Homo sapiens: one gene and its partner. The protein of the gene in region 1 binds, or shares a complex with, the protein of each later gene. Each region holds a gene or a part of one and is shown in the gene's direction. Other genes may lie near its edges.

Region 1 (8,850 bases):
GACAACAGGGGCAAAAGCAGAAAGTCATAAAGTAGGCTGGGCATGTTGACTCGTGCATGTAATCCAGCACTTTGGGAGGCCAAGGCAGGTGGATCACCTGAGGTCAGGAGTTTGAGACCAGCCTGACCAACATGGTGAAACCCTGTCTCTACTGAAAGTACAAAAATTAGCTGGGCATGGTGGCGGGTGCCTGTAGTTTCAGCTACAAGGGAGGCTGAGGCAGGAGAATCGCTTGAGCCCTGGAGACAGAGGTTGCAGTGAGCCAAGATTGTGCCACTGCACTGCAGCCTGGGTGACAGAGTGAGACTCCTTCTCAAAAACAAAACAAAAGCAAACCAGAAAGTCATAAAATAGCCCAGTGTGCGAGTGGAACTACACGCCCTGGGTTGAGCTGTAGTACAGGCCGCAGTAAGGTGGCAAGCGTCAGGGATAAAGCTGAAGAGGTTGGCAGAGACTGGATCACGGAGGTCCAATTTTTGCTTCTGAAGGTTCTCTCTGGCGATCCTTGGGGTGAGGAGAGACTGCAGTGGGCTAACATGAAGGCCAGTGTAAAGGTGATTGCAAGATTCCAGTTAAGATGTAATGAGGTCTAAATCAAGTCTGTGACTGTGAAGATACCAGAGATGTTGACCCACATCTCTTATTTTTTTCCTAACATTTTATGATGAACATTTTCAAACATTCAGAAAATCAAAGTAATTGTACTGTGAACACCCATATATCTACCACCCAGATTCTACAATTAGCATTTTACTACACTTGGCTTTATCACATATGTCCAGCCATGTATCAACACTTTATGCATTTCAAAATTATGAGCATGTGTACACATTCCTTTAAACATTTCATCATGCATGCCATTTACTAGAGTTCAATATGTGAACCTTTTTAAAGTTCAAATATCCATAAAATGAAGTAAATGCAAGCGTCTTAAGAGTATAATTTCATGTTTTGACAAATGTATATACCTGTGTAATCCACATCCCTATTGAGATACGGAACACTACCGTAATCTCAGAAAGTTGCCACATGTCCTTTCCCAGTCAATCACAGCCCTTTCTCCTTTCAGAGTTGGCCTTGAGTTTGGAATGTGTGAAAATAGACATTCCAGGTGAAGGGAACCTAGGTGGCTCCCTCTCCAGCAAAGGCATGGAGGCAGGTAACTAGGGAAGAACACATAAATGTTAGTAAACAAGTTCGGATGGATGCCCTTCAGTCTTCCACCTCTCTCACTACTAAGCCCCGTCTTTTTGGGTCAAAGCATAAAACATTGAAGTAGAGAGGAGTTGAGTCAAGGGACTGTCAGGCCGCAGGAGCTAACAGTCTTCAGGGGAGGAGGAGACAGAAGCACTGACAGTCACAATTTAGTGTAACAAATGTTGAATGTTATCTTGTACCAGGGTCAGGGCTATAACCAAGGGAAGGGCAGAAAGTTAGGTAAAATACCACAAATATGCCACAAGCGTTTGTTGTATGTGTGTATGTCTGAGAGAGAGAAGTGATAAGGTGAGTGACTCAGACTCTTGGTACTGGAGGAGCTCAAAGGAAAAGAGAGAAGAGTATTTACCAGCCATGAAAAGTTTTCTGGAGGTAAAGTCTTAAGGGATGTTGACTGTTAAGTGTGGTAGACATAAAGATGTTTCAGTTACAGATAACAGAAAATGTGAGTCAAGCAGGGACATTGGCCCATGTGACTGGTAAGTCTAGAGTTATGTGAGTTTTAGGTACAGTTTGATCAGAGCTTTGGTCCTGATGATCTCGGTGCTCTCCTATTTTGTGTGTGTTAGCTTTGTCTTCAGAATACTTCTTCATGGTCACAATATGACTGTCTGTAGCAGTTTAAAAATTGAGCTGCTATAGTAAATTCTTGGGCATTCTCAATACTTGAGTATGGAACATGTGCATGTGGAAGGAAATAACATTGCACTTTATAAACACTGTATTGCAAATGGAAAATGCAATGTCTTAAATAAAACTATTTAAATTTGGCACCATAAAAAAAGAACTAAGGAGAAGAATATTTATATTAACCTTCTAGAAAGTTGTAGAAAATAGTTTTTTGTGTTTTTTTTTGAGACAGTCTTATTCTGTTATCCAGGCTGGAGTGCAGTGGTGCGATCTCGGCTCACTGCAACCTCTGCCTCCCCGGTTCAAGTGATTCTCCTGCCTCAGCCTCCCGAGTAGCTGAGATTACAAGTGAGCATCACAATGCCCAGTTAATTTTTGTATTTTTAGTAGAGATGGGGTTTCGTCATGTTGGCCAGGCTGGTCTCGAACTCAAGTGATCCTCCTGCCTCAGCCTCCCTAGTATATCCTTCTCACTTTTTATTTATTTATTTATTTATTTATTTATTTATTTATTTATTATTTTGAGATGGAGTTTGGCTCTTGTCATCCAGGCTGGAGTGCAATGGCGCAATCTTGGCTCACTGCAACCTCCACCTCCTGGGTTCAAGCGATTCTCCTTCCTCAGCCTCCCTAGTAGCTGGGATTACAAGTGCTGGCCACCATGTCCAGCTCATTTTTGTATTTTTAGTAGAAAGAGGGTTTCACCATGTTGGTCAGGCTGGTCTCGAACTCCTGACCTCAAATGATCCACCCGCCTAGGCCTCCCACAGTGCTGGGATTACAGGTATGAGCCACTGCGCCTGGCCTTATTTTTTATTTTTATTTTTTGAGACAGGATCTCACTGTATCACCCAGGCTAGAGTGTAGTGGCATGATCATATCTCACTACAGCCTTCAATTCCTGGGCTCAAGTGATCCTCCCACCTCAGCCTCCTGAGTAGCTAGGACTATAGGCATGTACCACTACACCTGGCTGATTTTTGAAATTTTTTGTAGGGATAGGTCTCACTGTGTTACCCATGCATGTCTTGAACTCCTGGACTTTTTTTTTTTTCAGTCTGTCGCCCAGGCTGGCATGCAATGGTGCAATGATGGCTCACTGCCGCATAGACCTCCTGGGCTCAAGTGATCCTCCCACTTCAGCCTCTCAGATAGCTGAGACTACAGATGTGAGCCACCACGCTGGGCTAATTGAATTCTTGGCGTTAAGCAATTCTTCTGCCTTGGCTTCCCGAAGTGTTGAGATTACAGGTGAGTGACTATGTCCAGACCCCTACACACTTTTAAAAAAATATTTTTGGATTTTAAGGGGTTTTTGTAGAGTTCTGGAATCCTGTAAATTCTTTTCAAATTCTGTTTTGCTTTTTTTTTTTTTTTTTTTTTGAGATGGAGTCTCACTCTGTCGCCAGGCTGGAGTGCAGTGGTGTGATCTCGGCTTACTGCAACCTCCGCCTCCCAGGTTCAAGCGATTCTTCTACCTCAGCCTCCCAAGTAGCTGGGACTACAGGCGCCTGCCATCAGGCCCAGCTAATTTTTGTATTTTAAGTAGAAACGGGGTTTCACCATGTTGGCCAGGATGGTCTCGAACTCCTGACCTCGTGATCCACCCGCCTCTACCTCCCAAAGTGCCGGGATTACAGGCATGAGCCACTGCGCCCGGCCATTTTTGGTTTTTTATTTTTAAATGGAATCTCACTCTGTTGTTCAGGCTTGAGTGTCGTGGCACCATCAAGGCTCACTGCAACCTCTGCCTCCGGGTTTAAATGATTCTCTTGCCTCAGCCTCCTGAGTAGCTGGGATTACAGGCGCTGGACACCATGCCCAGCTAATTTTTATATTTTTAGTAGAGACAGGGTTTCGCGATGTTGGCCAGGCTGGTCTCAAACTCCTGACCTCAAGTGATCTGCCTGCCTCGGCCTCCCAAAGTGCTGGGATTAAAGGTGTGAGCCACTGTGCCCAGCCTAATTCAGTTCAAATTCCAAGCTAGGGGTTTCATATCCTATATGTGTAGAACATGACAAATATTTACCAAATATACTTTCATTAAAATCTGAAAGGTGAAACCTCAATTTAAAAAAAAATCTCCTACTTAAAAACAATGAAGTTTTAGTTTGCCACATTATCTTTAAAATACAATATGCCTTATTGTGTAGCATATCTCAAACTTTAAAATATTTAGTTTAGGCCAGGAGCAGTGGCTCACGCCTGTAATCCGACACTTTGGAAGGCCGAGGCGGTGGATCACTTGAGGTCAGGTGTTTGAGACCAGCCTGGCCAACATGGTGAAACCCCGTTTCTACTCAAGATACAAAAATTAGCCTAGCATGGTGGCGCATGCCTGTAATCCCAGCTACCCGGAAGGCTGAGGCAGGAGAATCGCTTGGACCCAGGAGGCGGAGTTTGCAGTGAGCCCAGATTGTGCCACTGCACTCCAGCCTGGGCGACAAAGGGAGACTCCATCTCAAAAAAAAAAAAAATTACTTTAAATGTGATTTAAAGCCTAGTTGTTAAAGTGTAAGTGTTCTCAAGGACTTTAAGATGTCTTTATGCCACAGTTGTCAAATATAATATTTCTAGAATTTAAAGTCATTTTTTAGCACTAAAATAACTACATGCAGGGCGGAGGTACTTGGACAAGGAAGGACCTAAAAAAAGTGTTCATCACCAGAAAGTTTATTTGTTCATCATCACCAACATTAAGAGGCCAATGGCCAGGAAGAAGCCAATTGTTGAAACCATTCTAAAACGACTGTGTTGCTTGGGAAACCAGAGAAGTTGGTGAACATTTGATGCGCCGAAAGCCACATCACTCAAATTTTCTCGCCCTCCAAATCTAGCAAAGAAAAAGAGAGAGGAAGCAGGGATAGAGGGGAAGAGGGGGAGGGAGGGGAGAGAGGGAGAAAGGAGAGAGGAAAGGCAAGAGAGAGAGACACACAGAGAGGGAGAGAGAGGGAGAGGGCAAAGGAGAGGAGAGGGAGAGAGAGGAGAGAGAAGGGGGGGCAGAGAGAAACAGAGGAGAGAGAAGAGGGGAGAGAGAGAGACAGAGGAGAGAGAAGAGGGGAGAGAGAGAGAGATTGAGAGAGAGAGAGAGAAGAATGAGAGATGGGCAGGGATCTGTCCAAGCAGGACTTGAGCGCCAAGCCCCGCCCCTGTTTCCCAGGTAACCTGATAAACAGACTCCATCTTTTCCTCTGTGAACTCGGCTAGGTGTTAAGAGGCAGGCAGGAAGCAATGGACAGGGAGTCCGAGTGAGGTTGTGCTCTTTCCTGAGAGAGGGGTTCCGCAAGGGATTGGAGGCGTCTTTGTAGCCAGGTACAGCTTTCCCCTTAGAGATGAGCGCTCTTGGAGAAATGAGAATGGGGAGAAATCGTCCATGAACATGGAGATTGGACATCCCCACGAAGGAAAGGATGATTTAGGAGACAAGAGGGTCATCATGGGAACAAAATTTCCCATGGAGTTGGGGATCAGAGTAGGATTAGGAAAAGAAGATTCCCGATGCGGGGAGAGCCCTGTGGTTAGTAATAAGTGTGAGGGAAGGATGGCACCACCAGAAACAAAATTTCCATTGAGCAAGGGGCTTGAAATGGGATTAGAAAGACAGAATATTTCTAGGACTGTCATGCAGAGGGGTAGTTTAGGAGTCGACAGTGTCTCAGCTTCACAGGGAACAAAACCTTCTCTGTTGCCAGGAAGAATGGGGTTAGAAAATGAGAGTCTTCTTGCAGGATATACCCATGAACGGATAATACAGCCTCCTTTGGGCAGGGTGTGTGGAAGTTCACAGGCTGCAGGGAGCAGGAGAGCTCCTTTGGCTAGTGGCCCTGAAGGGGTAGAGGAATTAGTGGGAAAGCCTGCTTTCGTTATGGAACCAAGACAGGAAATGGAAAAAGAGTCTACCTGTGTTTTAATGAAACCCAACACAGAGATTAAGCTTCCTGTGGAGGTGGACATTGGACTAACCCAAGCCGAGGGGCCAGATGAGACTAAGAATACAGAGCCCCAAATGGGCTTGGTGATAGAACCTCCCCAATGCCAGTTTGCCCAACAACATGAACAGAGAAAGGAGGCTGGAAACATTGAATCAGGAGTGGAACCTCCAGATCGCATCAGACCCATATACTCTGGGAAGTTTTTTGATCGGACCCCTTGCTGGCCAAGTGTAAGTTTTTTTCCACTTTCCATAGGAACTAAACTGTGTATAGCCATGTCTTTATTGAGATGATAAAGTGATAAAATTTGTTTTGGTTTGAAGAGACAAATCACAAGGATTTTATGAGATTCCTATATTTCTTGCCCCACTGGAATCTTTGCAGATGTTACTTAGATTTCTGATTCTCTGCCTCCCTTCCTAGATGTCAGCTTTGTTTTCTCTGCACACCGGTGGTTTGTTCTGATTTCTCTTTTCTCCTTTAACCTTCATTTCATTTTCCTCAAGCCTCTCACATATTGAAATACATGAAGATACATGCTGTGCCCTAATATTCATACTATGAATGGAAAAGAAAAGTGTTTCTTTTTCCATTCATTGTTTAGTCTGTGAGTTATTTGTTCTTTCAGCAAAGACTTGTGGTAGCCATTGTGCCAGGTACAGGACAAACTAAATTGAAAAGTACATGGTCCCTACCTCTAGGTTTAGGCTCACTCCAGTAATGGAGACAGATAACTAAAGGAATAGTATACAGTTATCTAAATTTATAAAAACACACATGATTCTTCCTTCATAGAAGTACACTCTGAATACAGAGCTCAGTGTAAAGATTGCACAATTCTGTTTAGAAGAGATGGGAAAAGCTTAATAGGGAAAGTAATATTTGAGCTAACATCGAAAGGTGTCAGTATTTGTCTGAAGAAAGAATGAGGTTAGAGCATTTTGGGCATAAAAAGGTATAGAGCACAACCAAAGCTTCCTATGTTCGAGAGGCATAAACAGTTGTATTCAGCCAGCAGGGTGTTGAGAGATGAAGATGAAGAAGAAATATGTAGAAGACATCTAAAGGCCCAGAATATAGGGATAAAACATATGGATACAGTATCAATGGTGGATCTTAATAAGGGTAAAAATAAATAAAATTTGCCTTTTAGAAAGATAATTCTGATATCAGTAGTTATGATGGACTGGAAGGGGGAGATACTGAATGACAAGTAGGTAGTTAGAACAACATTCCAAAGTTCTGATGGACTGGAATTAATGTAGAGTTAGAAAGAATAGAAAGGAGACTGCACTTTTGAGAGGTTTTTAGATGACATTTTAAAAAATTGCCACTCAGTTGTGGATCTACGTGGTGAGTAAGGGAAGTTGGTGGATGACTCAGGAGTTTCTGTGTTGATAATGATCTCTTTGGGTTTGGTGGCAAATGAATGTCCAGTGTTGGCTATCTTCAATATGAGATGACAGGTAAAGAAGCCAGGGAAACACTTGGTAATATGAGACAATTGATGCCCCATGGGTGTGAATGGGAGAAGAAAGTCAAGGCAAGAATCTTGGGAAACATTGACATGAGGTGGTCAGTGAAAAAGATGTCAATAAGGTGAGTTCTTGAGGGCAAGGACTATATCTTGTTCATTGTTTACCTTCATGTCATACCACAATACCTGGCTTATGGTGGTCATTCAATAAATACATGTTTGATAAATAGAAGGAAACCCGGATGATTAAATGGGAGAAAGACCAGTCGGAGAAGAAAAAAGTAAGTCTGAGACATTGGTATTGAGAAACATAAGAAAGTGTCCTTAAGTTATAATGTGAGTAAGAGATTCCACACACTGAAATTTGAAAATAAAACTCAGCTGAAGAGGTCACAGGGCTTCCACAGAATTTTGTCTGGGTTTGAAGACTTTTCCCCTTCAGACTCAGAATGTTCTTTTCTTCTTTGTCTCACACTGCTTTCTGGTTTCCTCTTTGGGTTTTCCCAGCCACTTTACTTGACCACACCGGTTCCCATTTCTGGATTGGTTCTGCAATTTACAGCTTCTGATCTGATCTGATCTCACACACATGCAGACACCAGCTTCCAGTTTCCAGCACAGGCAATTCTAAAACCTCTGCTTCCTCCCACTTCGCATACCTTCCTTTCTAAATGTGATAGGACAAGAAAGAGAGTGTCAAGGAGAGAGTGACCAGCAGTGTTAAATCATCTCTGATAGGCCTTGTGCAGTGGCACTAGCTGTAATCCCAGCACTTTGGGAGGCTGAGGCAGGAGGGTTTTTTTGTTTTGTTTTGTTTTTTGAGACAGAGTCTCACTCCATCACCCAGGCTGGAGTGCAGGGGTGCAATCTCAGCTTGCTGCAAACTCGGCCTCCCAGGCTTAAGCGATTCTTGTGCCTCAGCCTCCCAGTAGCTGGAATTCTAGGAGCATGCCACCACACCCGGCTAATTTTTTTTCCTTCTTTTTTTTCTAAATTTAATTTTTGTATTTTTAATAGAGAAGGGGTTTCGCCATGTTGGCCAGGCTGGTCCCCTACTCCTGACCTCAAGTGTTCGGCCCACCTTGGCCTCCCAAAGTGCTGGGATTACAGGCATGAGCCACCACGCCCAGCAGGCAGCAGGATTTCTCGAGGCCAGGAGTTTGTCATCAGCCTGGGCAACATAGCAAGACTCTGCCTATACAAAAAAGAAAAATTAGCCAGGTGTGGTAGTATGTGCCTGTAGTCCTAGCTACTTGGGAGAGGTGCGAAGATCATTTGAGCCTGGGAGTTCAAGGTTCCAGTGAGCTATGATCACACCACTGCATTCCAGTCTGGGTGACAAAATGAGATCCTGTCTCTAAAAATAAAGTAAAAATAAGATTAATTAACTTTGGACATTAAGAAATTACCAACATTGTTAGAACGACATAATAGAAAAAGAATTCAGATTATAATATACTGAAGAGCGAATGGGTTATTAGAATCGGAGAAAGCTATCATGAAATTTTTTTCTCTTAAGAAGTATGACAGTGAAGAGAAAGAGTAAATATTCCACTTAGAAATCTTATTATTTAGTGAATCAGTGGAGGAGTT
Region 2 (8,600 bases), on another chromosome or scaffold:
CCTGGCTCCCCGTCTGGCTCCATTCTCTGGAGCCCTGGGACCGCCTGGTGACCCGCTGCTGCCCCTGCAACGTCTGCAGCCCCCCGAAGGCCACCACCAAAGAGGCCTACTGCTACGAGAACCCTGAGATCTTGGCCTCCCAGCAGTTGTGACGGGCAGTTGCTGAGCAGACCGCCCCACCCTCCCCGGCTGGGAGGGCTCTGGAGGGCCCTGGAGGGGGGGTCCCCGCGGCAGCTGACCTCCGGTCACCTGCTTCCCCTTCTGTGCAAATAAACCAGGCTGTTATCTGGGGTGGCGGTCCTCACTCCCCTAGACAGGGGCCGCCTGCGCAGGTGGGGGAAGCAGCCCGATGCTGCCTCCTGGTGGACACTCCGGGGCCTGGGGCTCAGGCACAGGAGCCCGCCCACCCCAAGGTGTGTTTCTCACGGCAGCCGCTGGGGACAGAAGCTCCCAAGGAATGGCGGGCCTGGGGGGGCGGGGACTTCCCACAGTGGGAGCTGGGGCCCCTCCTGGGGGCGCAGGGGAGAGCCCAGCCAGCAGGGAGCAGGGCCGGTGGTGCAGGGTGTGGGGGATCCCGGAGCTCCTCTGCCCCGGCGGATGTCATGGTTGGGGTGGGGACTGGAGTCCCATCAGGTGCGTGGGGTGTGAGAAGGGACCCTGACGGCTTGGAGGGCCAGGTGGTCCCAGAGGCACCACCTGTCTGTCTGCCCTCTGTGTCTCTCAGCCGGTCCTGGGCTGGGCCCCTCGGGGACACTTCTCTGCAGGGCTGGGCCACGGCAGGTGCTCAGCTCCCAGAACCCACCAGGAAGCCAGTCTCACCCGCCAGGCTGGGGCACACTGAGGCCTCCCACTGCCACGGAGAATGAGACCCTGTCCCGGGAAGGCCTGTCCGTGGGGTGGGCCCAGGAGGGCGGACAGCACCCATGGGGAGGACTTGGGGGCCAGGGGGCCCTCCCTCTGCTGTGTGGTCGGGTTTCCACACAGGAAGGCTTGTCTGCCAGCCAATGGGTAACTGGACACCTAGGAAGTTGAGGGGGGGCTCCTGCCACCTCTAGCCCAGAGCTGCCCACAGCCCTAACCCAACCCCCACTCCCGCCAAGGGAAGAAAGCCTTGGGTTACCCCAGAACTGGAGCATTCATTCAGGCACACAGAGACGGGTGGGTGAGGGGACGGTCCCATCAGGGACAGGTCTAGTTTGCTCATTTGAGTCTGCTGCTGTGGCCAGTCACGTTCTCCCTTCCAGAACTGCAGCCCTGTTGGGGGGCAGCTCTCTTCCCAGAGCCTCCCAGGATTGCCTGGTCAGACCCCACTAGGGGATAGAGGTGCAGCCACTCAGGAAGATGAGGCCTGAGGGGGCCCCACGGCCACTTCTCCTCTGTGGCTCTGTTCTTTTCTGCCCTCAGTTTCCCTTTGCCCCTGCTCATGACCCCCAGACCCTCTGTGCCCTTGGCCCCCAGTCTTCCCTGGGTCCTCTGCCCCAGCCACCCCTCAAACTCTTAGGCCTCCTGGGCCTTGGTTTCACCTACCGAGGGAGGTGACCACCTGCTCTGGGAGCCAGGGGTGCCTCAGGGGTGGGCTCCAGTGAGAATGGGACCCCCAGCAGCTAGAGCTTTGGTTCTCACAGCCCTGTGATTCTAGGACGCCCCTGTGGACCTGACATCAGCCTCATAGAACCGTCTGGCACCCCTGTAGGGGACAAGCCTGGCTAGCTCCCTGGGGAGCCTGAGGGGCCGGGGAGCTCCCCTGTCCTTTGGGGGGGGATCAGTGAGGCCCTTGTGGAGAGAGGGAGGAAGCACCCCATGCACCTGTCCTTCCAGGGCAGGTGAGGCCTCCCACAAAGGCTGGGCGTCTGGTCCTTTAAGGCAGCCAATACTGTCTGCCTGCTGTCCCTGCCTGGCGGTAACACACCCTCCCACTGGGACCATGGCCACCAGTAAACAGAGCCTTCGTTGTGGATCCTCCGACAGCTGCAGGAGGAGGAGGGCAGGTGCCCAGCACTCCCACAGCCACGCCTGCCCCGCTTCCCTGCCCTTCTGGCCCTCCTTGGACCACATCCTGCCTGGCCACAGACCCCAGGCCCAGGAGTTGGTCCTCCTGCCCCACACTATCCCGCCTCTCCATCCTGCAGCAGGGCACCTTGGCTCAGGGTGGGACCTACAGAGCCTTCCCCAACCAGTTTTGTGCAACAGGGGTGGCTGCTGTCCTTGTTGGGCTCAGGCCCAGGCTTCAGGGTGTCTACTGCTGTCTTGTCCCCAGCCAGTGTCCACCTCACCAGGGCAATGCAAGGGCAAAGTAGGCAAGCTGGTGCCATGGCGAGCTCTGGGGCTCTCACCTGGGCAGGTGACACCTGTGAAACGGGTGGCACACTGACCTCCCAGCCCTGTGGGCACTGGTCACAGGAAGCAGGGGCCTTTACTGGAGAGGGGTTGGGAGACTCTGACAAGGTGCAGGAATGCCACACACCTCAAAGAGCAGCCTCAGTTGGGCTCTGCACAGTTCACTGAGGAAAAAAACAGAGCTTCTCCTTCTCCCCTTTGTGACAACTCAATGTTATGAGACTCCAACATGTCCCTGACTACTGCCTGGACAGCTGAGCTACTCTGCAGGACCCCAGGATGCCCTGGGCACTAGGAGAAACCTGGGATGGCTGGCAGCAACCTGTGCACCCCTCAGGCCGCTGCAGGACCCCAGTCCCTCTGAGGGTCAAGGCCTGTGTCACAGTGGTCACTGGAAGCCAGGCCCGCCTTCCTGGGCTGATCTGTGGGGGAGGCCACCCTCCTGGACAGGATGGCAAACTGGCAACAGACCCCCGAGGAGTGAGCACAGCTGCAGGCCCTCGCCCCAGAAGGACAATGCTGATCCCCGCGCATGCTCCGGTGCTGCGTGTCCCGAGTTCTGGTATCGCGCATTATGTGGTGAAGACAGAGGTGCAGTCCCTCCAGGAAGAGAGAAATAAATAAGCAGATGTTGTTTCCAACAGCCTCCAATTGGGAGACAGATGCCCAGTGGCCAGAGCACAGGAGACTGTCAGGGCCGACCTGATGGTGTAATTTATTTAAAATGCTACAAAAATACAGCCAGGTGCAGTGGCTCATGCCTGTAATCCCAGCACTTTGGGAGGCCGAGGCGAATGAATCACAAGGTCAGTTCCAGACCAGCCTGGCCAAGATGGTGAAACCCCATCTCTATTAAAAATACAGAAATTAGCCGGGCGTGGTGGCGGGCGCCTGTAATCCCAGCTACTCGGGAGGCTGAGGCAGGAGAATCGCTTGAACCCGGGAGATGGAGGTTGCAGTGAGCCGAGATCATGCCACTGCACTCCAGCCTGAGCGACGGAGCCAGACTCTGTCTCAAAAAAAAAAAAAAAAAAAAATAGCCAGGCGTGGTGGTGCACACCTGTAGTTCCAGCTACTTGGGAAGGTGAGGCAGGCGAATTGCTTGAACCGGGGAGGCAGAGGTTGCAGCGAGCTGAGATTGCGCCACTGCACTCCAGCCTAGGCGACAAGAGCAAAACTCCATCTCAAAAAAAAAAGAAAAAAGCTACAAAAATGTAGAAGGCACGGCGGCTCATTCCCGTAAATCCGAGCACTTGGGGAGGCCGAGGCGGGCGGATCACTTGAGGTCAGGAGTTTCAGACCAGCTTGGCCAACATGGTGAAATCCCATTTCTACCAAAAATACAAAAATTAGCGGCGTGGTGGTGGGTGCCTGCAGTCCCACCTACTGGGGAGGCTGAGGCAGAAGAATCGCTTGAACCTGGGGGGGGGCGGGGAGCCAAGATCGCGCCACTGCACTCCAGCCCGGGAGACAGAGCGAGACTCTGTCTCAGAATAATAAATTAAGTAAAATAAAAATGCTGCAAAAATACAGCCCGTTTGTTTTTAAACAGGCGCAACCACATGTAATTCATTTTAAGTTTCTTTTCCCACCCAAGTAAAAATCAAGTCATAAATTAGGAAAAGCATTAACAGAAGTATGTTTCAGCCCCAGCGCGCTGACCTGTGGTTGGAATACCGGCCCTGGAGCCCGGAGGTCGGGGCCCACCCGCCGAGGGAGGTCTGGGCGCTGTCCTGGTCTCCACGGAGCTCGCGCACTCACGGGGCCGAGGCACCAAGGCGACCGGCGCAGAGCCAGCGCCGTCTCCACAACAGGGCAGGGCGCGCAGCTGCGGGGGAGGCCTCGCCCCTCCGCTCCCCTCCCCTGCCCTCCGCCCCGGCCCTCGGGGCGCGGCGTCCCCCACGTGCTCCCCTCACGCGACCGCGAGGGCAGTGGGCGTGCGGCACCCGGGAGCAGGAAACTCCGTGGCCTCTGCGGCTCTGTGGAGAGCTCCCCTCCACCGCCGCAGCCCCCGAGCCCGTGTATCTTCCTGCCTTTAAGGCATCGCAGCCTCCTCGGCCTGGAGGCCCCGGGCTCGCTCCGTGCGGACCCCGCTCCAGAACCCGCCCAGCGCGCAGATGCCGTGTCCCGGCGCAAGGCCAGAGAGGGCGCAACTCTGGACGTGGGGCCGCCACCGAGCCTGCCCTTCCCGGCTCCCGAAAGGCCCCGGGCTCAGAGCCAAGACTGCGCTTGCCCGAGGCCCGTCGGGCCCGCCCTCCCTCGGCGCCCCCAGCGCAGCTGCCCGCCGCCCGACCGGAAGCCCGCACTCGCGCCTGCGCCCCACCCCGTCCGCGCGCCGGCCGCGGCACTGCGGCGGTTACCAGGACGCTGAAGCAGCGCAGCCAATAGCGCCAGCCTGGCGGCGTGCTCCCGGCAGCCAGCCAATGAGACGGCAAATCAATCATTTGAAACACCCAATGGACGGAGCACTGCGGCGCCAGGAGGGGGATTGTGATAGGGAGATAGGAGGCTGCGGCTGACCAATAAAGACCAAACTGGCTTAAAAAGGCGGACCTTAGGCAGCTTGATTGACGGGGGCAAGGCCAATCAAACGAGGGAGCTTGCCAGCCTCGTTCTGGCAGCCCATTCCGAGACTAGCGGAGGCGGGCAGGGAGGGTATATAAGCGTTGGCGGAGCGTCGGTTGTAGCACTCTGCGCGCCCGCTCTTCTGCTGCTGTTTGTCTACTTCCTCCTGCTTCCCCGCCGCCGCCGCCGCCATCATGAGGGAAATCGTGCACTTGCAGGCCGGGCAGTGCGGCAACCAAATCGGCGCCAAGGTAAGTTGCCGGGGCGCTGGGGCCAGGCGGGCCTGCCGGGCGGTGTGGGCGGGCGGCCGGGGAAGATGGCGGCAGCAGCGGCCGGGCGGCGCCCCCGCATTGCGGCCGCCGGGCCCCCTCCGCGGGGAATTGGCCGAGCCGGGCGACCGAAGCCCCCAGGAACCCGGCGGCCAGGGCGCGCGGGGCGGGGGAGGGGCGGGGAGGGCCGGGCTGCCGCGCCCGTCCGGGGCGGGGCTGCCTCCCTGCGCACCGGCCGCGGTGACTCAGCCCCGGCCCGCCCGGGCCCGCCCGCGTCCCTTGTAGTTTTGGGAGGTGATCAGCGATGAGCACGGCATCGACCCCACGGGCACCTACCACGGGGACAGCGACCTGCAGCTGGAACGCATCAACGTGTACTACAATGAGGCCACCGGTGAGGCCCCGGCCCCTTCCCCGACCGCCCTCCGGGGACCCCGCGGCCCCTGCCTTGGCTGACGCCCTCCCGTCCCCGCAGGCGGCAAGTACGTGCCCCGCGCCGTGCTCGTGGATCTGGAGCCCGGCACCATGGACTCCGTGCGCTCGGGGCCCTTCGGGCAGATCTTCCGGCCGGACAACTTCGTTTTCGGTGAGCCGTGGCTGGGGACTGGGCGGCGGCTCAAAGGTCAAGGGGCTGCTCCAAGGGCACCGCCGTGGGAACTGCGCAGCCGGGGCCCCTGGACGCCCTCCTCTTCTCTGAGCCACTCAATCCCCTCTACTAAATCGGCTTTGGGAGCAAGGTCCAGCTGTCTGCCGAGGCGAGGAGCCGCCACACACGTAATCTCCCTGCAGGGAGCTGAGCTGGGGCAGTGGCTGTTCCTCTGTCCTTGGGAATTGGCAGTGGCCCCCCCGGGGAGGGGTTTGTTAAGCTGTCAGGTTTGGCCCCTGACTTAATTCGTAGCAGGGCAGGCTGCCGTCTTTTGGCTTTGAAGGGTCCGTTTGCTCTACCTCCAGGGTGAATTCTGTGGTCAGCTCACACCATGTCACTCGGCTTTTTTCGCATGGCGGTGACCAGTAGTGCTGTCTACCTGGCTGACAAATGATTAGCTGTGTTCTCTCACAGGTCAGAGTGGTGCTGGGAACAACTGGGCCAAGGGGCACTACACAGAAGGCGCGGAGCTGGTGGACTCGGTGCTGGATGTTGTGAGAAAGGAGGCTGAGAGCTGTGACTGCCTGCAGGGTTTCCAGCTGACCCACTCCCTGGGTGGGGGGACTGGGTCTGGGATGGGTACCCTCCTCATCAGCAAGATCCGGGAGGAGTACCCAGACAGGATCATGAACACGTTTAGTGTGGTGCCTTCGCCCAAAGTGTCAGACACAGTGGTGGAGCCCTACAACGCCACCCTCTCAGTCCACCAGCTCGTAGAAAACACAGACGAGACCTACTGCATTGATAACGAAGCTCTCTACGACATTTGCTTCAGAACCCTAAAGCTGACCACGCCCACCTATGGTGACCTGAACCACCTGGTGTCTGCTACCATGAGTGGGGTCACCACCTGCCTGCGCTTCCCAGGCCAGCTCAATGCTGACCTGCGGAAGCTGGCTGTGAACATGGTCCCGTTTCCCCGGCTGCACTTCTTCATGCCCGGCTTTGCCCCACTGACCAGCCGGGGCAGCCAGCAGTACCGGGCGCTGACCGTGCCCGAGCTCACCCAGCAGATGTTTGATGCCAAGAACATGATGGCTGCCTGCGACCCCCGCCATGGCCGCTACCTGACGGTTGCCGCCGTGTTCAGGGGCCGCATGTCCATGAAGGAGGTGGATGAGCAAATGCTTAATGTCCAAAACAAAAACAGCAGCTATTTTGTTGAGTGGATCCCCAACAATGTGAAAACGGCTGTCTGTGACATCCCACCTCGGGGGCTAAAAATGTCCGCCACCTTCATTGGCAACAGCACGGCCATCCAGGAGCTGTTCAAGCGCATCTCCGAGCAGTTCACGGCCATGTTCCGGCGCAAGGCCTTCCTGCACTGGTACACGGGCGAGGGCATGGACGAGATGGAGTTCACCGAGGCCGAGAGCAACATGAATGACCTGGTGTCCGAGTACCAGCAGTACCAGGATGCCACAGCCGAGGAGGAGGGCGAGTTCGAGGAGGAGGCTGAGGAGGAGGTGGCCTAGAGCCTTCAGTCACTGGGGAAAGCAGGGAAGCAGTGTGAACTCTTTATTCACTCCCAGCCTGTCCTGTGGCCTGTCCCACTGTGTGCACTTGCTGTTTTCCCTGTCCACATCCATGCTGTACAGACACCACCATTAAAGCATTTTCATAGTGTGTGGTTTCGCTTTGCCCATTCCTTCCAGTAGGCCCTCCGGGTGCTGTTGCCGAATGTCAGGGCGTAGTTGTCCTGCATGGCTGCGGGGAGCCAGGCTGCAGCTGAGCTGGGCTTATGTGCCCAGGACCAGCATGGGCTGGACACCCAGGCTTCAGAGAAGTGTGGGGCTGCCCTGGGCCCTGGGTATCTGCTTGGTGGGGAACTTGCTTGTTGAAGGCAGGCCTGTCCTGTTCCAGGTACCCAACCTTGGGGCTCGGCCTGTGTCTGGGACTTAGGTGGGTCCAGTGACCCCCCTTCCAAAAGGGGTAGGGAGGATGGCAGACAATCCTACCCCAACCAAGGTGGGACCCTGGTAATGGTCAGACAGGTGGTCCTGAACCAGCAATGAAGGGTGAGCAGGTAGAGCCGTCCCTCCCCACATTGGCCGGGGTGTGTCCATGTGACCCTGCCCACTCTACTCACCGGGGATGAACCCCATGTAGAAGGGGATCAGGCCTTGGCTGCTGTAGATGTGGTTGCTGGGCCAGTGTGTTCCAGGCAGCTTCTCGCCCAGGTCACAGTGGGGGTTTCTAAACAGGAACTGGGGAGACAGGAAGGTGCTAACAAGCTCCCTCCCCGGCAGGCAAACAGATAGTCAAGTTGTCCCAGTGGGGGCCTGGCCGGAGGGCCGGCACTCCGTGGGAAAGCTGCTAATGCTCCCAGCCTTCTGCATCCCCCTACCCCCGACTCCAAAACTTGAGTGCAGGGATCCAAGCAAGACTCAGGAGAGAGGGGTTGGGGCGGCACCTCCGGGGACAGGAGAGAGCCAGGCAGAGCCCCCTCCTCAGGCTTCTCAGGGAACCTGGCCTTCAAGGCACCCTCCAGGGAAGCTGCCAGGCAGGAGAGGAAGTGTGTGTGTGAGCTGGGAGCAGGCCCTGGATGGCGCTTTCCTACCTGGCTCTTGTCGAATTCGTCCATGGCTTGCATGACGCCGTCTCGGTAATTCAACCCCATTACCCAGGTGAAACGGGGAATGAAGCCAGCATAGCCTGGGGGTAGGCAGATGTACGGGCTACCCCAAGCCCCCTTAGCCTTCCCCTGGGCACACCCACCTGCCCTCAGACGTGTCAGGGAAGCCAGGCAAGGCTCCCTTTCGTTCCCTGAACGTTGGCGACTG

The links.
Region 2: the proteins of EFHB (region 1) and TUBB4B are in contact, whole or in part, in a cryo-EM structure (PDB 7UNG), measured with the Homo sapiens proteins. Residues at the interface, in NP_653316.3 of Homo sapiens: Tyr523, Gly524, Val525, Gly526, Leu528, Ile529, His530, Asn531, Arg532, Tyr537, Arg539, Asp542, Arg545, Ala546, Ala549, Ala550, Arg552, His553, Lys556, Tyr608, Asn624, Phe625, Trp628, Asp630, Lys631, Thr686, Leu687, Leu688, Ser691, Asp692; in NP_006079.1 of Homo sapiens: Asp26 (codon at 5,475), Glu27 (codon at 5,478), Asp31 (codon at 5,490), Pro32 (codon at 5,493), Thr33 (codon at 5,496), His37 (codon at 5,508), Gly38 (codon at 5,511), Asp39 (codon at 5,514), Ser40 (codon at 5,517), Leu42 (codon at 5,523), Gln43 (codon at 5,526), Thr55 (codon at 5,562), Gly56 (codon at 5,565), Gly57 (codon at 5,649), Lys58 (codon at 5,652), Ser78 (codon at 5,712), Gly79 (codon at 5,715), Pro80 (codon at 5,718), Phe81 (codon at 5,721), Gln83 (codon at 5,727), Leu215 (codon at 6,597), Lys216 (codon at 6,600), Leu217 (codon at 6,603), Thr219 (codon at 6,609), Thr221 (codon at 6,615), Asp224 (codon at 6,624), His227 (codon at 6,633), Pro243 (codon at 6,681), Gln245 (codon at 6,687), Phe270 (codon at 6,762).

The regions. Positions count from the first base shown.
Region 1 is NC_000003.12:19,930,390-19,939,239, reverse strand, and holds the start of EFHB (EF-hand domain-containing family member B), read left to right. Parts: upstream 1-5,022; 5' UTR 5,023-5,221; coding exon 5,222-6,010; intron 6,011-8,850. UniProt on the Homo sapiens protein: Microtubule inner protein (MIP) part of the dynein-decorated doublet microtubules (DMTs) in cilia axoneme, which is required for motile cilia beating.
Region 2 is NC_000009.12:137,236,265-137,244,864, forward strand, and holds TUBB4B (tubulin beta-4B chain), read left to right. Parts: upstream 1-5,022; 5' UTR 5,023-5,096; coding exon 5,097-5,153; intron 5,154-5,456; coding exon 5,457-5,565; intron 5,566-5,646; coding exon 5,647-5,757; intron 5,758-6,231; coding exon 6,232-7,292; 3' UTR 7,293-7,435; downstream 7,436-8,600. Other genes in the region: CIMIP2A (ciliary microtubule inner protein 2A), read right to left, coding at 7,436-7,524, 7,907-8,024, 8,378-8,472. UniProt on the Homo sapiens protein: Tubulin is the major constituent of microtubules, a cylinder consisting of laterally associated linear protofilaments composed of alpha- and beta-tubulin heterodimers.